4 linked regions of the Homo sapiens genome follow. The protein of the gene in region 2 purifies or fractionates together with the protein of the main gene of each other region. This does not show direct contact. Each region holds a gene or a part of one and is shown on either strand. Other genes may lie near its edges.

Evidence for each region.
Region 1: the proteins of CRIP1 (region 2) and PPP2R5E purify together in Homo sapiens (affinity purification with mass spectrometry; 2 studies listed by BioGRID and IntAct, with this or other methods). This does not show direct contact.
Region 3: the proteins of CRIP1 (region 2) and MSI2 fractionate together in Homo sapiens (co-fractionation; one large-scale study listed by BioGRID). This does not show direct contact.
Region 4: the proteins of CRIP1 (region 2) and HNRNPA3 fractionate together in Homo sapiens (co-fractionation; one large-scale study listed by BioGRID). This does not show direct contact.

What each region holds. Positions count from the first base shown.
Region 1 is NC_000014.9:63,533,378-63,537,651, reverse strand, and holds part of PPP2R5E (serine/threonine-protein phosphatase 2A 56 kDa regulatory subunit epsilon isoform), read left to right. Parts: intron 1-4,274. UniProt on the Homo sapiens protein: The B regulatory subunit might modulate substrate selectivity and catalytic activity, and might also direct the localization of the catalytic enzyme to a particular subcellular compartment.
Region 2 is NC_000014.9:105,484,801-105,490,244, forward strand, and holds CRIP1 (cysteine-rich protein 1), read left to right. Parts: upstream 1-2,085; 5' UTR 2,086-2,172; intron 2,173-2,398; 5' UTR 2,399-2,459; coding exon 2,460-2,499; intron 2,500-3,365; coding exon 3,366-3,460; intron 3,461-3,530; coding exon 3,531-3,588; intron 3,589-3,670; coding exon 3,671-3,711; 3' UTR 3,712-3,716; intron 3,717-3,862; 3' UTR 3,863-4,147; downstream 4,148-5,444. UniProt on the Homo sapiens protein: Seems to have a role in zinc absorption and may function as an intracellular zinc transport protein.
Region 3 is NC_000017.11:57,612,249-57,616,522, reverse strand, and holds part of MSI2 (RNA-binding protein Musashi homolog 2), read right to left. Parts: intron 554-4,274; coding exon 439-553; intron 1-438.
Region 4 is NC_000002.12:177,215,020-177,219,293, forward strand, and holds part of HNRNPA3 (heterogeneous nuclear ribonucleoprotein A3), read left to right. Parts: intron 1-519; coding exon 520-642; intron 643-730; coding exon 731-877; intron 878-958; coding exon 959-1,169; intron 1,170-1,483; coding exon 1,484-1,573; intron 1,574-1,656; coding exon 1,657-1,752; intron 1,753-1,840; coding exon 1,841-1,921; intron 1,922-2,685; coding exon 2,686-2,826; intron 2,827-4,017; coding exon 4,018-4,140; intron 4,141-4,227; coding exon 4,228-4,274. UniProt on the Homo sapiens protein: Plays a role in cytoplasmic trafficking of RNA. Binds to the cis-acting response element, A2RE. May be involved in pre-mRNA splicing.

The DNA of each region.
Region 1 (4,274 bases), about 42 Mb from region 2:
CCTCAAAATTTAGCTTAGGATATTTCAAGCTTCTATTTTTTCCATATGAATACTTTTTTTAAAAAAGAGAGAGAGATTCATAAATAAGATTCCAATGTTTATACAAAATTTTTGGAAACTGAATACTGATTACTGTAAAGATGATATATCTACCAGTCAGTAAAGATGAGCTCCTGTGAGCTTTGGGGGAGAAAATTTTGACTAGAGATTTTGCTGGTAAAAATGAAAATAGTCATTATGAGGCTTTGGAAAGAAAATGTAGGAAACACTGTAGATTGAACTATGCTTGAAATACAAAGTTGGGAGACACTGGTTTTTAGTAATCTATTTAATCTGAAGTAGATATGTAATGGGTGTTAACTTCTGTATCTGTAAAGGACTTCATTCTGAGGAAGCCAGTTAAATTTTTTTTTTTAGAATTAGAAGGAATTTAAAAACTTACACTAATTTCTTGGATCTTATGGTAAACAATTAAATTAGGACTTCACTGACCACTCATAGTCAGGGTATTGGTTTTGTGGGTAGTGAAAGAAGCATGCATGAGAAGAATTTGGACACATGCTTTAATGTATTTTTTCTTTAATGCTTTCATGTCTTTTTTCTCATTTTAAAAAATTATGGTAAAATATACATAACATGAAATTTACCATCTTAACCATGTTTAAATGTGCATTAAGTGCCTTGACATTGTCATGCAACTGTCCCTACCATCCATCTCCAGAACCTTTTCATCTTCCCCAACTGAAGCTCTGTACCTGTTAAACACTGACTCCCTGTTTCCCCCACCAGCCCTTGGCAACCGCCATTCTGTTTTTTGTTTCTATGAATTTGACTACTCTAGGTACCTCCTATAAGTGATGCCATGCAATATTTGTCTTTTTGTGACTGGCTTATTTCACTTAGTCAAGTGTCTTCAGTGTTCATCTCTGTTGTAGCAGGTGTCAGAATTTCATTCTTTTTTAAGGCTGAATAATTTCAGTGTATATACATACCATATACTTTTTAATCCATTAATTCATTGGTGGACACTTGGGTTGCTTCCACCTTCAGGCTATTGTGAATAATGCTGCTGTGACCATGATGTACAGATACCTGTTTAAGTTCTGGCTTTCATTTCTTTTGGGTATGTACCCAGACGTGTAATTGCTGGATCATATGTTGAATTTTTCAGGAATTGCCATACATATTGCCACAGCAACTGGACCATTTTTCATTCCCATTAGCAATGCATGAGGGTTCCAGTTTTCTATATCCTCACCATCACTCATTTTCTGCTTTTTAATTTTTTGATAGTAGTCATTATAATAGGTATGAAGTGGTATTTCAGTGTGATTTTTATTTGCATTGCCCTAATGATTAGTGATGTTGAGCATCTTTTCCTGTGCTTTTTGGCCATTTCTGTATCCTTTTTCTCACTTTTAAAAGTGAAGTCTGCTAGTGTTGCCAGTTTTCCAAGAACTCTGCTTTCCAAGAATGTGATTTTTTGAACTTGTATATTTTGCCAGTATGAGAGAATTGGAGAGTAACAGGACTATATACTCACAAACCTAATTCCAGAGTGACTAACAGTGATTGTTATGTAGTAAGCACATTCTGGGTAAATACTCTGGAAAGTATTCTATAAATTAGAAATCCATCTCTGTCTGTAGAATAACATAAGGAAGTATAATCAGAAATAGACTTCAGTAATGTGTATTTGCTCTTGATTTTCTAGGAAGTAATTTATGGAATATAAAGAAAATGTAGGAGGAATTTCTTTTCTAGGATTTTATTTTTTTTGGCCATTGCCTTAAGAGAAACCAGGATAAACACTATATGCATGCTAAGGGTAGTTATTGATTTAATTTTCTATAGTATTGCTTTGACTAAATTGGGTTAATTTTATTTGGAGTACAATATAAAATATGGTTGAATTTTGTGAGTTGTTTTAAATAATGAAGTCAAAGAGGTGTCCTTAAGGTCTTTAATTTCAGGGGAGTTTGAATACGATAATTATACAAACAGTGATTATGTAACTCATCTTTTAATATGTCATTTTTGAATGCTCAGATATGCATTAATAACCACTCGTTTTGTGCATGCATTATCAGAATGTTTATTATATGCATCATAATCTTTGATTTATAAATAATACTGCATTAATTCTTAGCGTTTTAAAGTCTGTTCACTTGCAAAACTGCAACATAATGTGAAGGGAAAGTTTTTGTTTTGCCCTATTTCTTTTTTTTTTGAGATGGAGTTTTGCTCTTGTTGCCCAGGCTGGAGTACAGTGGTGCGATCTCAGCTCACTGCAACCTCTGCCTCTTGGTTCAAGTGATTCTCTTGCCTCAGGCTCCTGAGTAGCTGGGATTGCAGGTGCCCACCACCACACCAAGCTAATTTTTTTGTATTTTTAGTAGAGACGTGTTGAGACCAGCCAGGCTGGTCTCAAACTCCTGACCTCAGGTGATCCACCTGCCTTGGCCTCCCAAAGTGCTGGGATTACAGGCGTCAGTCACTGCGCCCAGCCTATTTTGCCCTATGTCTAATAGGTGGGGTTTTGAAATCTGTATCACTGATGTTATTTCCTGTAGAAAGCAACACCACCTGTAATTCTGTATAAATCTACCTGGTTTTTCCGTATCTGTGTGTTAGGAAATTATAGGATGAACTTTGCAAAGATAGACATTTACATTTTCTCCATCTTTATATGCTTTTGTGAAAGTGTTCTTGGAGAGCCTTAACATTTTTGAGGCTGGGTATGGTGGCTCACACCTATAATCCCAGCACATAGGGAGACAGAGTTGGGAGGCTCGCTTAAGCCCAAGAGTTTGAGACCAGCCTACGCAACATAGTGAGACCTCATCTGTACAAATAATTTAAAAAATTAGCCAGGGTGGTGGTGTACACCTGTGGTCCCAGCTACTTGGGAGGCTGAGGCAGAAGGATTGCCCGAGCCCAGGAGGCTGAGGCTGCAGTGAGCTGTGATTGTTCCACTGTGTCCAGTGTGGCTGACAGAGTGAGACCTTTGTCTCAAAATAAAAACATTTTTTTCTTTGAGTCTAAAAGATTCTTACTCATTCACTGATAGGGAAAACCTAGTAGAGGTTTAGTGCCTTACTTACTTGATAAGAAAGTAAAATCTTGGGGGAGGCCGACAGGGGGCGGGTCATTTGAGGTCAAGAGTTTGAGACCAGCCTGGCCAACAGGGTAAAACCCCATCTCTGCTAAAAATCCAAAAATTCGTGGATGTAGTGGTGTGCATCTATAATCCCAGCTACTCAGGAGGCTGAGGCAGGAGAATCACTTGACCCCGGGAGGTGGAGGTTGCAGTGAGCTCATATTGTGCCACTATAAACTCTGTCTTAAAAAAAAAAAGAAAGTCAAGACTTGGATACTTTCCTTACACTTACACAGCAGGACATGAAGCAAGCCTTGACTGTTATCTAGGTAAGTTGTTGAGTAAGACAGTCAAACTAAACAGTTAGGCAAACACACAAACACACACACAAATTTATGTTAATAATAATCAGTGGTAGTAGCACCTGGCTGGGTGATTTATGTTCTCTCCTCACCCCAGCCTCCTGTGCCTCATTTCCTTGCGTTGACTTTAAGCAATTCTGTAAGTTTAGATTTGGGTGAACGTTTTCTGAAGAATACTGCCTCTTTGAAGATGGAATTATAGTGAAAGTAGCATTGTTATTTCTTTTGTTTGTTTGTTTTTCTGAGACAGAGTCTCGCTCTGTCACCCAGGCTGGAGTGCAGTGGCGCAATCTCGGCTCACTGCAACCTCTGCCTCCCAGGTTCAAGTGATTCTCCTGCCTCAGCCTGCGGAGAGTAGCTGGGATTACAGGTGTCTGCCACCACATCCGGCTGATTTTTATATTTTTAGTAGAGACGGGGTTTCTCCATGTTGGCCAGGCTGGTCTCGAACTCCTGACCACAGGTGCGTCCGCCTGCCTAGGCCTCCCAAAGTGCTGGGATTCTTGGCATGAGCCACCGCGCCCGGCCGCCATTGTTATTTCTTGTCTCACAATTCATTATACATTTCCGAGGCATTTTGCAGATAGTTTGTACATTCACTTTTAGATATTCTTACAACTATGATGACTAGACGGAGTTTAGCTCTTGTTGCCCAGGCTGGAGTGTAATGGTGCGATCTCGGCTCACCACAGCCTCTGCCTTCCGGGTTCAAGCCATTTTCCTGCCTCAGCCTCCCAAGTAGCTGGGATTACAGGCATGCGCCTCCATGCCCGGCTAATTTTGTATTTTTAGTAGAGATGGGGTTTCTCCAT
Region 2 (5,444 bases):
CGTGACCATGGTGACAGGAAGCAACAGCAGGGAAGGCCAGGAATGGACTCATCACCCTGGTTTTCAAGGAGGGGCTCCTCCATGGGCAGGGTGGGTTGGAGTCCAGAGTGTGGGGGAAGGGACCATCCCTGGGGGCGGGTAGAGGGGAGGACAAGGACTGGGTCATTGTCCCTATCTGCCCTGGCTAATGTCCGTACATGAGCTGCAAGGTACCGGGCCAGGAGCTGGGATGGGCTGGGGAGGAGGCTTGACAGAAATATGGGCGGACAACTGCGAGAGGGACCACACACATGCTCGCGGGGACCCCAGAGACCCCTGATGGACACACCCATACGGGTATGTCCACGGGCACCAGGCACACACGTGTGCATCAGGCACTTGCCCTGCACCTCTGCACCCGGAGCACGTCATCCTGGTGGGGGTGTGGACAGCGGTGCTGGGCACCCTGGGGCTTGGGGGCAGCGCACGCCCCAGGGAAAGTGCAGTGACAGAGCCCCCGGCCTCCCCAATACTGTCCGGGCTCCCCTGGCCTCTCCCCCTTCTTGGTGCCTCTGCCTCTCCCTCTGCTTGTCTGCAGGTTTGTCCCACGATGCCCCACACTCAGTGGAGATGGCAGGTGGGCCCAGACCTCAGAGTGGGTTTCAAGGCTCATGGGCTGGAGAGTGGGGGTTCCAAGTTTGCAGGACAGGAGCGCACCCCTACTCTGGAAACCTTATCTCTGAGGTCTCAGAATGGGGGATGAGGAGGGCTCCAATGGGCCCCTGTGGAATGTCCTATCAGACCCCAGGACTTAGCCCCAGTCGGGGGACAGAACTGTGGCCTTAGAGGGGCGCCAGGAGGAGGGCAAGCAGGATGTGGCCTTGGGCTGGGTGTGCTGGTGTGGGGCTCTCTGGAGTGTGGCCTCTGTGCCAGACGCCTGTGCCTTGGCCGTCCTACAGCCCTGCTGCCCCTGCCCTCTCCCCAAGCTGGGGACTGGTGGCAGACAGGGCAGGGCAGGCGGCTTCTCTTCCTCTAAGTGCAGGCCTCGAGGTGCCGACAGGGGTGCGGTAGGATTCAGGGAAAGTGAGGTTGGGATCACAGGTGCAGTTAGGGCTCAGGGCCCGACAGCGGTAGGCCAGCGGCTCCTGGGGCCCAGGAGGATGGTCTCCAGCGCCCCCAGCGGGGACAGGGCCAGCACAGGCCCAGTGGAGATCGAGGGGAGATAAGGACGCTGGTTAACATGGCTGACAGGAGGGATGGTGGGTGGGGAGGAAGGGCAGCACCGCCCTTGTGCTGTGGGAGCTCCCAGGGAGCTCCATGCAGCATGGAGGTGAAGGGCCTGCAGAGAGAGGGCTCCCCTGCTCAGTGACAGGAGAGGGGGCTGACAGTGACCTGGGCTCCCTTCCTGAGGCTGGCCAGTCAGCTAGAGGGCTGACCCCAAAGCCCGAGGCCAGCGCAGCCCCCTTGGCCCTCCTGAATCTGGGGGGCGGGTGAGGCGGGACAGACTCCGCCTGGCACCGGGACCATCCTCCGCCTCAACTTTGCAGCGTACTTGGACCGCTCTGGCCGCCCTGGGCGCTACCCGCAGAGATAAGGGCCCCTCCCTGCGCCCGGTCCGGGCATCTCCGAGCCGGCCTGGGGGTGGCTGAACTCTCTTTTGCCGGCCGAAACCCCAGCCCCCGCAGCCCCCGCAGCCGATCGGTCCTCAAGCTACAGCTCCCCTCTCTGGGAGTCCCCGCTTTTGAATTCCCCGGGGATGTTCCCGCTGCGGTCCGATGGACCTCCCAGAGCAGCGGAGGTCAGGGGAGCTAGCAGAGGCGGGGACGTCCCTTGGGAGTGAGGGGACTGACAGGGGCGGCCTCGTAACCCTGCGTGGGATGGAAGGTCAGAGTGGGTTCCTCGGTGGGGGGCAACAGCGGGGGCTCTCCGGCAATTGTCCCCGACCCTCCGTCCTGGGGAGGGCAGGATCAGCGCGCGGGCTGCTTTGCATCTCTTTGCATTTTAGTGATGTTTGGTCCAGTCCTGGCCCGGGCAGATCTGGGGTTCGGGCGGGTGCCGGTGGGGTAGGGCTGGGGGTGGGAGCGGCGTTTCCTGCTGCGGGTGAGCCTTTTGCCTCGGAACTGGACCCGGGAGACATCACAGCGCTGGGCTAGGGGCGCGGCTTGAACTCGCCTAAAGAGCTGCGCCCTCTCAGTAAGTCCCCATGGCCCCCTGCCCCCCCGCGCTCCGTCCTCAGTCAGGCCCGGGTCCTGCCTGAAGGCGGGGGTGGACCAGATGATCTTTCTTGGGCCCTGGGCCTAGATTCGAGGTCCCCAGGGTCCAAGTCCTGGGTTCAGAGGGCGGGGCGCGAGGGGCGGGGTCTCCAAGGGGCGGGGTCCCGGGGTCCCTGAAAGGCGCGGACCAGGCCGGATCCACCCAGTCTCGCGCCTGCAGCCCGTGCCGCCCCAGCCGCTGCCGCCTGCACCGGACCCGGAGCCGTCATGCCCAAGTGTCCCAAGTGCAACAAGGAGGTGTACTTCGGTGAGCGCGCCCACACCGGCCCCGCGAGGAGGCGCCGCCGACGGGGCGACGAGGCTGGGGACCGCTCAGGAGGACCGGGGGCGCTGGGTCCCTGGGGCGGCGCCCCAGCCTGAAAACGCCTCAGCCTGGCCCGCCGCCTGCCCCGGGATGAGGGTGGAGGCCCCTGCGTCCGAGGGCCCTGGCGATCTCTGCCTGCTAGTGGTCTTGCTGTGCTCGGCGGGCTACCTCTGGCTCTGAGCCTCCCCGTCTCTGGGTCCTACGGTCTCTGCCGTTTCCTCTCAGGCGCGCCCTGAGTGGGGGACCCGCAGGGCTGGAAGGAACGCGGGGCTGGGGCCGCGCCCCCCAGCGCTAAGTGGAAACAGACGCGGAAACCGACGCCCGGGGCGCGATCCCGGGCGCCCGCCTCCCTGCCCCGCGCCCGCGCGCCCCGAGGGGAGGGAGGAAGTGGGAAGTCACCCCTGTCCCCGCCGAGAAGGGCTGTCGCAGGCTCCACCCTTGCCACCGCAGAGGCCCGGGGCTGAAAGCAGGCAGCCAGGCCCAGGCCCTGCTGACCTAAGCCGCGACCCCTGACCCTCGGCCTCGCCCTCTAGCCCCACCCAGCCTTCAGGAGCAAGATTCCCGGCCGCACCCGAAAGTGCCCCGGGGACCAGCGACCCCGCGCTTTGTTTAGTTGTATTGGCTCTGGGGATTGGAGATGTTCCCCTCATGGAGGGTGCTGAGACCTTAGGGTGGGCTGCCAGGCTGGGCGGATGCGGGCTAAGTGCACAGGGCCTTGGGCAGAGCTGGCTGCAAGAGGCGGGTACGCCAGTGGTGGGTAGGCGCCGCGTCCTGCAGCGTCTCACCGGGGCCTGTCTGTGCCTCTGCAGCCGAGAGGGTGACCTCTCTGGGCAAGGACTGGCATCGGCCCTGCCTGAAGTGCGAGAAATGTGGGAAGACGCTGACCTCTGGGGGCCACGCTGAGGTAGGTGGGACCCACCCTGGTGGCAGGGGCCAGGGGTGATGGCACCCCCTCACGGCCCTTCTCTTTGCAGCACGAAGGCAAACCCTACTGCAACCACCCCTGCTACGCAGCCATGTTTGGGCCTAAAGGTATGCTCCCGTCATCCCCACCCCACCCCACCCCACAGCCTCCTCCACCCCAGCCTGTTGACTTTTTCCACCTTCTCTGCAGGCTTTGGGCGGGGCGGAGCCGAGAGCCACACTTTCAAGTAAACCAGGTAGGTAGGACCCCACCCCCTATCCTGCCTCCTGGTTCCACCCTCGGGATGGGGATGCCCCCTCCCAGGGAGGCCTGACCACTCGTGGGCCCCAAAGGAGGCCGTGGACGCTGCACTCACGTCTGTGCCTGTCTCTCTCTGCACAGGTGGTGGAGACCCCATCCTTGGCTGCTTGCAGGGCCACTGTCCAGGCAAATGCCAGGCCTTGTCCCCAGATGCCCAGGGCTCCCTTGTTGCCCCTAATGCTCTCAGTAAACCTGAACACTTGGAAAACCTGTGTGTGTACATGCGCGTGTGTGCTGGGGAGTGCCAAGGGAGCTGCAGTGGGGTCCTGGCAGCAGGCTCTGCCACCGGCGCCTGCTCTTCTGCTGCCCATTGCCCTCCCCAGGGGGCCGTTCCAGGGTCTCATAGGCGAGGGCTCCCTGTGCAGGGTGAGTCCAGGCCACCCTAGACAGCCCGCACCCAGCCCTGGCACTCTGAGTCCGCCTCGACAACTCCCAGATCCTCAGAAGTGCCTCTGAGCCCTCCTGGCCTTCTGGGAGTGGGGAAGGGGGGCTTTGCAGGCCACCAGCCAAAGGCTCAGCAGGCCGAGAGGCCTGGGGGCGGGCGAGGCTGGCCTCGGGTCAGAGGGTGAATCAGCTCATGCTGGCTCCCTTTCTGAGAGGCTCTGGGGGAGTTATGGGAACTCCTGGCCTTCCTCCTTTCCACCCCCCAACCCTGTCCTCATTCCCCACCCCTCCAGGCCAGGCCCAGCTTCTGCAAGGGCCTGATGAGGCTGCTCTGCCCCTGACCCAGGCACCACTGCCCCATGTGCGTCCTCATCTGCCATCTACCCTGTGCCCAGGGACTTACCCAGTGGCCCGGCGTCCAGTGGGGAACTTGAGTACCGGCCGTGCACAGGGGCTGGGGGGCCTTCTGGAAACTCCCTTGTCAACTCAGCCAGCCGCTGCTGACTGGCCACCTTCAGAGACCCTCTTCCCCACACTGGCTACTTAGATACCGGCCTTGGCAGAAGGCCACCCCTCCGGACACCCACTGGTTTAAAAGAGCCCAGGGGTCTGGCCCTGCCTTAGGGCTGTGGTGGGTGTGCTGCAGGCTCAGCTCGACAGGTGCTGTGGGGGCAGTCTAGGGTGGCCCGCAGGGTGGGGTGTGTGGGGGTGATTGGGGGATTCCTGGAATTCCAAGAGCTGGGAGCCACAGCACTTTTGATGGGATGGGGGCAGGGGGTGCTGAGGTGAGGCTGGTTTCTGGCTGGACGGTGGTGGGTGGAGCTGAGGGAACTGAGATCTTTGAGACAGCGACACCTGGTGCAGAGAAAAATCCGCAAGCTCGGGGGTTGGGAGAGCGCTGAACAAGGCCGCAGAGCTGCTCCGCCATCTCCCCCACGCCTCCTGCCAAGTTCTGTGGCGCCGCGGTTCCCCACCTCCTGCTCCCATCCCCCTGGCTCCCGCCGCCCTGTAGCTCGGCAGGTGCAGTAGGCGCTCCGAGGAGGAGGCCCCTTAGCTTCAAGAAACCCGCGTGGGCGGGGTGAGGAGCGCAGTCCTCCTACTGGCGCCGTGAAGGAGATCGCGATGCGCCGGAGGGAAGGAGGCTGCGGGCGGGGAAGGACGGAGGGCGTGCGGGGAGGGAGAGGAGGGGCTTGCTGGGGGGGGGGCCCCGAGGCGGGGCCGGGAGGGCCGCCTGGAAGAGGAGGTCGGGGGCGAAGGAGGCCGAGAAGAAAGGTGGGGC
Region 3 (4,274 bases), on a different chromosome or scaffold from region 2:
TACCACTTCCCTCCTCTCCCAAGTTTTAGAAAACGTAGCCTTAGCCCACACAAGTCAAGTCAGCCAGGAGTCCTTACATCTTAAGAACTCCCACTCAGATGAGAGGGCTGAGGCAGATAGAGGGGGACTTTTCCTTCTTTTGAGGAAGGAGATGGAAAAGAGAGAAAATAGTCTAACATATCCTATAAGCCAGGCATGGGGCAATATTATAAATACAAACACACACACACACACACACACATGCATGCACACACACACACCCACACTTAATCATCACAACTGTCTTGGAACGGGGAATTATCATCCTCATCTACAGACAAGGAAACTGAGGCTTAGAAAGGTGAAGCAGTTTGCCCCACTGGTAGGTGACCCAGTTGGGAGTAGAGGCCTCCATAGCCCTCCCAGTCCATGGTGACCTGCGGTCCTGTCCAGACTCACCCAGCATCCCCATGCCAAGCATGAACGCGTCCATGGTGTAAGGCAGTCCCCGGGCCCGGCCTCTTGTCCCAGGTGGGAACATGACTTCTTTCGGCTGAGCTTTCTTACATTCTACCTGTTAAACAGAAAGGCGAACAAATGAGATGCAAATGAATTCCACGTAAATGTCAAATGCAGAACCTGTCTGGTTATGAGCTAAGTTATTTTTAGCCTTGCTCCTTACCCACTGTAAAAATAGCCATGCCGAGTAAATGGCCTGCAAAATAAATACTTAAGAAAACACGCCACTTGTGCAAATCCTGCTTCGGAAAAACCTACAAGGATGAAACTGGGTTCTGGAGGGGTGGCAAGGACGTAAGCTGCAGATATACACACAGATTGAAGCTCAGGCTGACGCTCGTGCAGAAAGCATGACAGATAAGGAGGCAGACAATGGCTGTTGGATGTGTCTGTGAATAATAACAACAATAGCAATAATAATAATCCCTCAGGATTTTTCAGCCCTTTACACATTTACAAATGCCCCTGACATTCTCTCAGGCCAGTGACTCTTCATGCCAGGCCATCTGATTCAAACTCTTATTAAACAGACAGACCACTTAGCCTTAGCTCCAGTTCACAGATGAGAAAACAGAGCATCAGAAGTTTTGTGTTGGCTGGGCGTGGGGGATCATGTTTGTAATCCCAGCACTGTGGGAGGTGGAGGCAGGTGAATCAGCTTGAGCCCAGGCGTTTCAGATCAGCCTGGCAACATGGTGAAACCCCGTCTGTACTAAAAAAATACAAAAAACTAGGCAGGTGTGGTGGCACACACCTGTAGTCCCAGCTACCTGGGAGGCTGAGGTAGGGGGATCACCTGAGTCTGGGAGGTCAAGGCTGCAGTGAGCCATGATCACGCCACTGCACTCCAGCCTGGGTGACACAGCGAGACCCTGTCTTAAAAAAAAAAAAAAAAAAAAATTCTTGTGCAACATGCTGAAAGCCCTCCCCAACAGGTTCAGGCCTACAAACCAGATCTTTAGAATTTCTAGGTCAGCAATGCCACATTTCCACAAAACCTACACCACCACCACACTCCTGAGGGAAGTAATAAGATTAAACACTGATTCTGTTCATCTGGATTACTAGTTTCTCATTTGCAGCTACATTTTCAAGTGGTTGCTAATCTCCCCTTTCTGTTTCCCTTCTGACTCTCAAATTTCTTCATGCTAATCTGCTTGTATACCCAGAGGTCACTTATTTAATAACCTTAACTATGCGAACTATAAACCTCAGGGAATAAGTAAAACTGTGGCCCTCGGAAGCTCCTTCACTGTTTTACCAGAGCGCCTTAGGCCTGTGCTTATTAGCACTTATTTGCTTTTTGTTTACAGAGAAATTTAACAAGCATTGTTAGCCAGTCATCAATCCCACTGCTGATGAAGATGGGATGTTGCAGGGTAAGGCACGGATGCTTTTAACAGCCAAAAGAAACAGCATGGCCGCCTGATAGTGACGGAGAAAAGACAAGAAACAGGTATCTTATTTAAATGACGGAGAAAAGACAAGAAACAGGTATCTTATTTAAAGAGCAGTCTGGGCCATATGGTATAGGAACAAAAGCTCTACATAGTTCAACAGCTGCTGAGGTATCACTGTAACACAGAAAATTGCTATTGTTCACAGGTGTGCCTGAGATAGCAAGAAAAAGTTAAACTGTGTGCAATATACATTGTTTAAACAGAGACCTCTAGGCCGGACGTGGTGGCTCACACCTGTAATCCCAACACTTTGGGAGGCTAAGGCAGGCAGACTGCTTGAGTCCAGGAGTTCGAGACCAGCCTGGCTATCGTGGCAAAACCCTGTCTCTACTAAAAATACAAAAAAATTAGCCAGGTGTGGTGGCATGCTCCTGTAATCCCAGCTACTTGGGAGGCTAAGGCAGAAGAATCGCTTGAACCCGGGAGGTGGAGGGTGTAGTGAGCCGAGATCGCACCACTGTACTCCAGCCTGGGCGACAGAGCGAGACTCTATCTCAAAAAATAAAAAAAATAAATAAAACGAAAATAAAAAAGGAACCTCTATGGGTTATCCATTTTGGAGATACTCACATCCCAAATACTTCAATCAAAAAATATTTTAGTGCTCAAGGTTAGGGGGATGCTATAATTACCTAAGATATAAGTCACCTTTCTTCAAAGACACCGGACAACAGGTATTACTCTTGCTCTTTCAAGAATAACCACAAATGCCTTAAAAAGTGGACAAAATGGTTCAACATTCATGACTAATATGCTTAATACAGAGTTCTATAGATTAAAAGAGATGAGCATCCCAAAACAGACATGGGTAAAAGACAGGAGTAGACAATTCACAGACGGCTAATAAAGAACACATTCCCCAAGATGAAGCATATTTTTTGCCCACAGATTGACAGTGATGAAAGCATTGTTTGATGTAAGGGTTTCTGACGGTATAGTGTGGAGGGGTGGAAATTGGCACGTATTTTTCTGGAGGGCAACCAGACACTACATCAAAAGCCATAAATTTATACATACACCTAGTAATCTTACCTCTAGGAATTTGCCCTACCGGAATTAGAATTTTTTTTTTTAATAAAAGGAAATACCTAAAATATAGAAGAACAGGGAATTAGCTGAGTTTGGATTATCCACACTGATTGAATGCTATGCAGCTATGAAAAAGTGTGTTGATAATAATCATGCACTGGTACTGGGAAACCCCTCAGTCCCAGGCAAACCAGGATGATGGGTTTCTTTAACTGCAAGCGGGAAAACAGCAAATGTCACTGACTTTTTGAAAAATAAACAAGTGCATATATCATATAGGGAAAAATACTGAAAAGACATACTAAAGTTGTCTTAGAATCACTCTGTTTTTAAATTTTAATTGGGCATTTTGCTAGTTATTTTCTAAGCTTTCTGCTAAGCAACAGGGAGCAGGTTTTTGTAAGATAATGCAATAGACTGTCACTGATAGGGCTATTAGAATATTGTCATTGCAGGTAGGGGGGAAAGGTGATTGAAAACAACAAACTCATCCAAATTGGCTCTTTTAGGTTTCTCTCCTAAGCCCAGGGGTGAAAACTGGCTTCAGGACTCCAGAGGAGCAGGCTGAGAAATCTCATTTGCATGAACCTGCCCCAAGCCTAGGAAGATGGGCGTGTCTCGCACAGGCAGACAGATAATTACCCAAAGCCAACACCAGCAAGGGGAATAATACCGCTAACCAGCTCACTTCCTAATAGCCCTATCGGTGACAATCTACTGCATTGTCTTATGAAAACCTGCTGCCTGTTCCTAGGCAACCCGATCAACGGAAATCTCAGGTTTATACAATTTTCATTTAGGGAACATAAAGGTTAACTGACTGTAATGGGAGTGTTTTAAACAAACCCACCTACTCTTCCTCTCACTGAACAGGGCTGACAGCTCTGTTTAATTCTGCTCTGTCTTTGCTGCTGGTGGTTTGGGCAGCAATGACTGTCTGAGTGCCAACCACCTGCTGGGTCAACGGTGAGTGTTCCCCAAGGCCAGGGGCCATGGCGCATACACTCTCCAGGGGACCCTGGCCTGTCCTGGGCATCTGAATGACAGGGGAAGGCAGCAGGTAACAGTTAACAGCAGGGAACCTGGCCTGCCTGCCCTGAAGGCCTCTTGAAAGACTTCTCAGGACCAGGAAGCCTGTCCAGTCCCCTCCACCCCCGAGACTCAGCCACTTAATTCAATGACGCAGATGCGGAGGAACTCAACACGCCAGGCAAGTGCTAGGCTTTGGGGACCCAAAGATAAATAAGGAAAGCCTCCACCTCTCTGAGAGCTCTCATTGTATTGAAA
Region 4 (4,274 bases), on a different chromosome or scaffold from region 2:
GCATTTGAAAGGCTGGTTATAGGTTTCCTTGACATAAGTTAGCCCCTTTAACAGTTGAAGTCTTATTTCTGGTCAAAGTTTTTGTTGTTTTGTTTTTTTGAGACGGAGTTTTCGCTCCTATGGCCCAGGCTGGAGTGTAATGACATGATCTTGGCTCACCGCAACCTCCGCCTCCTGGGTTTAAGCGATTTTCCTTTCTCGAGTAGCTGGGATTACAGACGCCCGCCACCACGCCCAGCTAATTTTTGTGTTTTTAGTAGAGATGGGGTTTCGCCGTGTTGGCCAGGCTGGTCTCGAACTCCTGACCTCAGGTAATCCATCTGCCTCGGCCTCCCAAAGTGTTGGGATTACAGGCATGAGACATCGCGCCGGTGTCTGGTCAAAGTTTTAACTGGACAAAGTGTTAACTGTCACAGGAATTTGATGTTGATTTTATTACTTACCGTACATTAAAGGCTCTTCGTGCATCTTAATTCATCTACTGTAAGGTAACTTAAGAGTATTGGTTCTTTCTCTCAGGGCCATGATCCAAAGGAACCAGAGCAGTTGAGAAAACTGTTTATTGGTGGTCTGAGCTTTGAAACTACAGATGATAGTTTACGAGAACATTTTGAGAAATGGGGCACACTCACAGATTGTGTGGTAAGTTACTAAGAGAACAGAAGGGTTCTAAGGGGTGTAGAGAACCGGTGGAGGTGTTTTCAACGTTATAAAACTTTTTATTTTGTAGGTAATGAGAGACCCCCAAACAAAACGTTCCAGGGGCTTTGGTTTTGTGACTTATTCTTGTGTTGAAGAGGTGGATGCAGCAATGTGTGCTCGACCACACAAGGTTGATGGGCGTGTAGTGGAACCAAAGAGAGCTGTTTCTAGAGAGGTATTTTAATAATACATTGTGTAATATGTGAAATTGTTGTGAAAGTTTGTTTCTTGACTTAATATATTACTTTATTTGTAGGATTCTGTAAAGCCTGGTGCCCATCTAACAGTGAAGAAAATTTTTGTTGGTGGTATTAAAGAAGATACAGAAGAATATAATTTGAGAGACTACTTTGAAAAGTATGGCAAGATTGAAACCATAGAAGTTATGGAAGACAGGCAGAGTGGAAAAAAGAGAGGATTTGCTTTTGTAACTTTTGATGATCATGATACAGTTGATAAAATTGTTGGTAAGTAGCAATTTATGGTAACTTGAATGAGAAAGTAGAACTGGTTTTTCTGTTTTGAACTAAATTTGCTAAATTGTAATTTTCTGTTGCGTGTAATGGCATTTATAGTGTATAGTCAATTTTCATAGTGTCTGCCTGTGTAATCAGTATCCAGATCAAGAAATAAACATAAACATCTCAGAATGCTCCTTCATTACCAGAGTCACTACCTGATTATGTCTTAATGGGTTACATAATGACAGAGGGTATCTCATATATGTGCTTTTCCAAACATAAAATAACTTTTTGTTTTGTTTGATTGAAAAAAAATTTAGTTCAGAAATACCACACTATTAATGGGCATAATTGTGAAGTGAAAAAGGCCCTTTCTAAACAAGAGATGCAGTCTGCTGGATCACAGAGAGGTGAGTAGGACCATACACATGTATACAGTGGATATGAGTGGTGTTTGTAAGGTTCTTAAAAATCTCCCTTGCCTGTATTAAAGGTCGTGGAGGTGGATCTGGCAATTTTATGGGTCGCGGAGGGAACTTTGGAGGTGGTGGAGGTAATTTTGGCCGTGGTGGAAACTTTGGTGGAAGAGGTAGGCTGTTTATCTTCTAAGTACATGGATACCTGACATTTTGGTAAGTTGAATATATTATTTTAATTCATTTCTTGTTTTTCCTCAGGAGGCTATGGTGGTGGAGGTGGTGGCAGCAGAGGTAGTTATGGAGGAGGTGATGGTGGATATAATGGATTTGGAGGTGATGGTAGGTGGCTTATTTTCATTGATGTTTGATATTTTAACTTTCTTTACTTATTGAAAATTATTTATTACACTTTTCTAATTTTAGTTAAAACTTCAGTGGCTAAATGGTTAAGGTGTATTTCCAAACTGTACATGGAAGAACAGGAACCCTTTTTCCCCTGGAGAGACATTAGCTGCTCTTTTTCAGCAAGTAGTAGGGGTTGAGCTAGAATTGTTCTATTAAGTCTGAGACTATATTTTTCTTAGTGAAATTTTGTAAAATGAAAACTGATTTTCTTTTTTACTATCAGAAGATGGGTTACACATTTATTTTTCATTCTTACTAGTGCAGATACTTGATACTCTATTATTATTAGGTATTACCAGGCTTCAGAGTGCTAAATCAATTCATTGGCTTATTTGCCAGTGGCTTAAATGTAATATAAAACCAGAGTTGAGTAATTCTAGCTATTCAGGAGGCTGAGGCAGAGGGGTTGCTTGAGGTGAGGATTTTGAGACTAGTCTGAGCAACATAAGGAGACCGTATATCTAGAAAAATAAAATAGGGGAACATGGTGGCACATGCCCATAGTCTAGCTACTCAGGAGACTGAGGTGGGAGAATGGCTTGAGCCCAGGAGTTCAAGGCTGCATTGCTGTGGTTGCACCACTGTACTTGAGCCCGGGCAACAGAGCAAGACCCAGTCTCTTACACACACACCAGAATTGAATAACGTGACTATACACTTAAGTTTTTGTGTGGTCTTGTTATTTGTTGTTTTTTTAGGTGGCAACTATGGCGGTGGTCCTGGTTATAGTAGTAGAGGGGGCTATGGTGGTGGTGGACCAGGATATGGAAACCAAGGTGGTGGATATGGTGGAGGTGGAGGATATGATGGTTACAATGAAGGAGGAAATTTTGGCGGTGGTAAGCATTCACTTGTTTTATTTAAATGTTAAATATTCAGTGTTGCTAACAGTTCCCATGACACATATTTGGAAAGTGTTAAAAGCGTTTGATCAAATTTTATGTTCTATAAGAAAAATACTAAAATGGTTGGTAGTTCAAACCAAATTTTCTTGACTTTGCTGGTTATTTAGTAAAATGTACAAATGTACTCAGCTCTCTTTTTTCTTTTTTTTTTTTTTTTTTTTTTTTTTTGAGATGGAGTCTTGCTCTGTTGCCCAGGCTGGAGTGCAGTGGCGTGATCTCAGCTCATTGCAATCTCCGCCTCCCGGGTTCATGCGATTCTCCTGCCTCAGCCTCCCTAGTAGCTGGGACTACAGGCGTATGCCAGCACGCCCGGTTAATTTTTTTGCATTTTTAGTAGAGATGGGGTTTCACCATGTTAGCCAGGATGGTCTCGATCTCCTGACCTTGTGATCTGCCCGCTTCTGCCTCCCAAAGTACTGGGATTACAGGCATGAGCCACTGCACTCAGCCAAATGTACTGAATTTTTAGTTGAGTAGTAAAAAATGGACATTTACCAGTATTCAGTACATGTTTTACGTGTAAAAGATTGGGAGTTTATTTATTGCCAAAATTTTACTTAACTCCTTGGTACTTTTAAACTGGACAACCGGGAATAAATTGTTTGAATACTCCAGACGTGTTGAAGTGAGCAGGTTGCCATCTAGGGCCCAGGTTAACAAAGTACTTTGGGTCTTAATATAATATGTCACAGGTAGTTGAAGCGTTTAAGCAAGCTAGTGTATGTAGGTCATTAAGCCACAATACTGTTAAAAGCTTTCTTAGGAATGCACTGTTTTATTGGACCTAATTAACATGTCAATGACAGATGAGTGGAAGTTTTAACAAGTTAGAATGCCTTCTCATTGTTTTAAATGTTATACTGCTTCAGAATCATAGTGAATGGAACACTGGCAATTTTAATGGTGTTAATGGTAGAGAGAACATGCGCCTAGAGGACAGCATTTAATATAAACAAAATGTTGATGGTCTTTTAATATCCTGACATCAGTTACCCCAAGTGGTGCTACCACAGTGATGTGTATAAGCATGCTACCATAATTCTCAAAAGATAATAGTTACATACGTTAAAAGGGGAAAATGATGATTGTGTAGGTAAACCACACATAAAACCTTTCTGATTTCAGGTAACTATGGTGGTGGTGGGAACTATAATGATTTTGGAAATTATAGTGGACAACAGCAATCAAATTATGGACCCATGAAAGGGGGCAGTTTTGGTGGAAGAAGCTCGGGCAGTCCCTATGGTGGTAAGTACTTTCTTAAATCAATTCTTTAGAGCCTTTTTAATTTAAAAAATGTGCATACTTCTTTTAAAATACTATGTATATTTTCAGGTGGTTATGGATCTGGTGGTGGAAGTGGTGGATATGGTAGCAGAAGG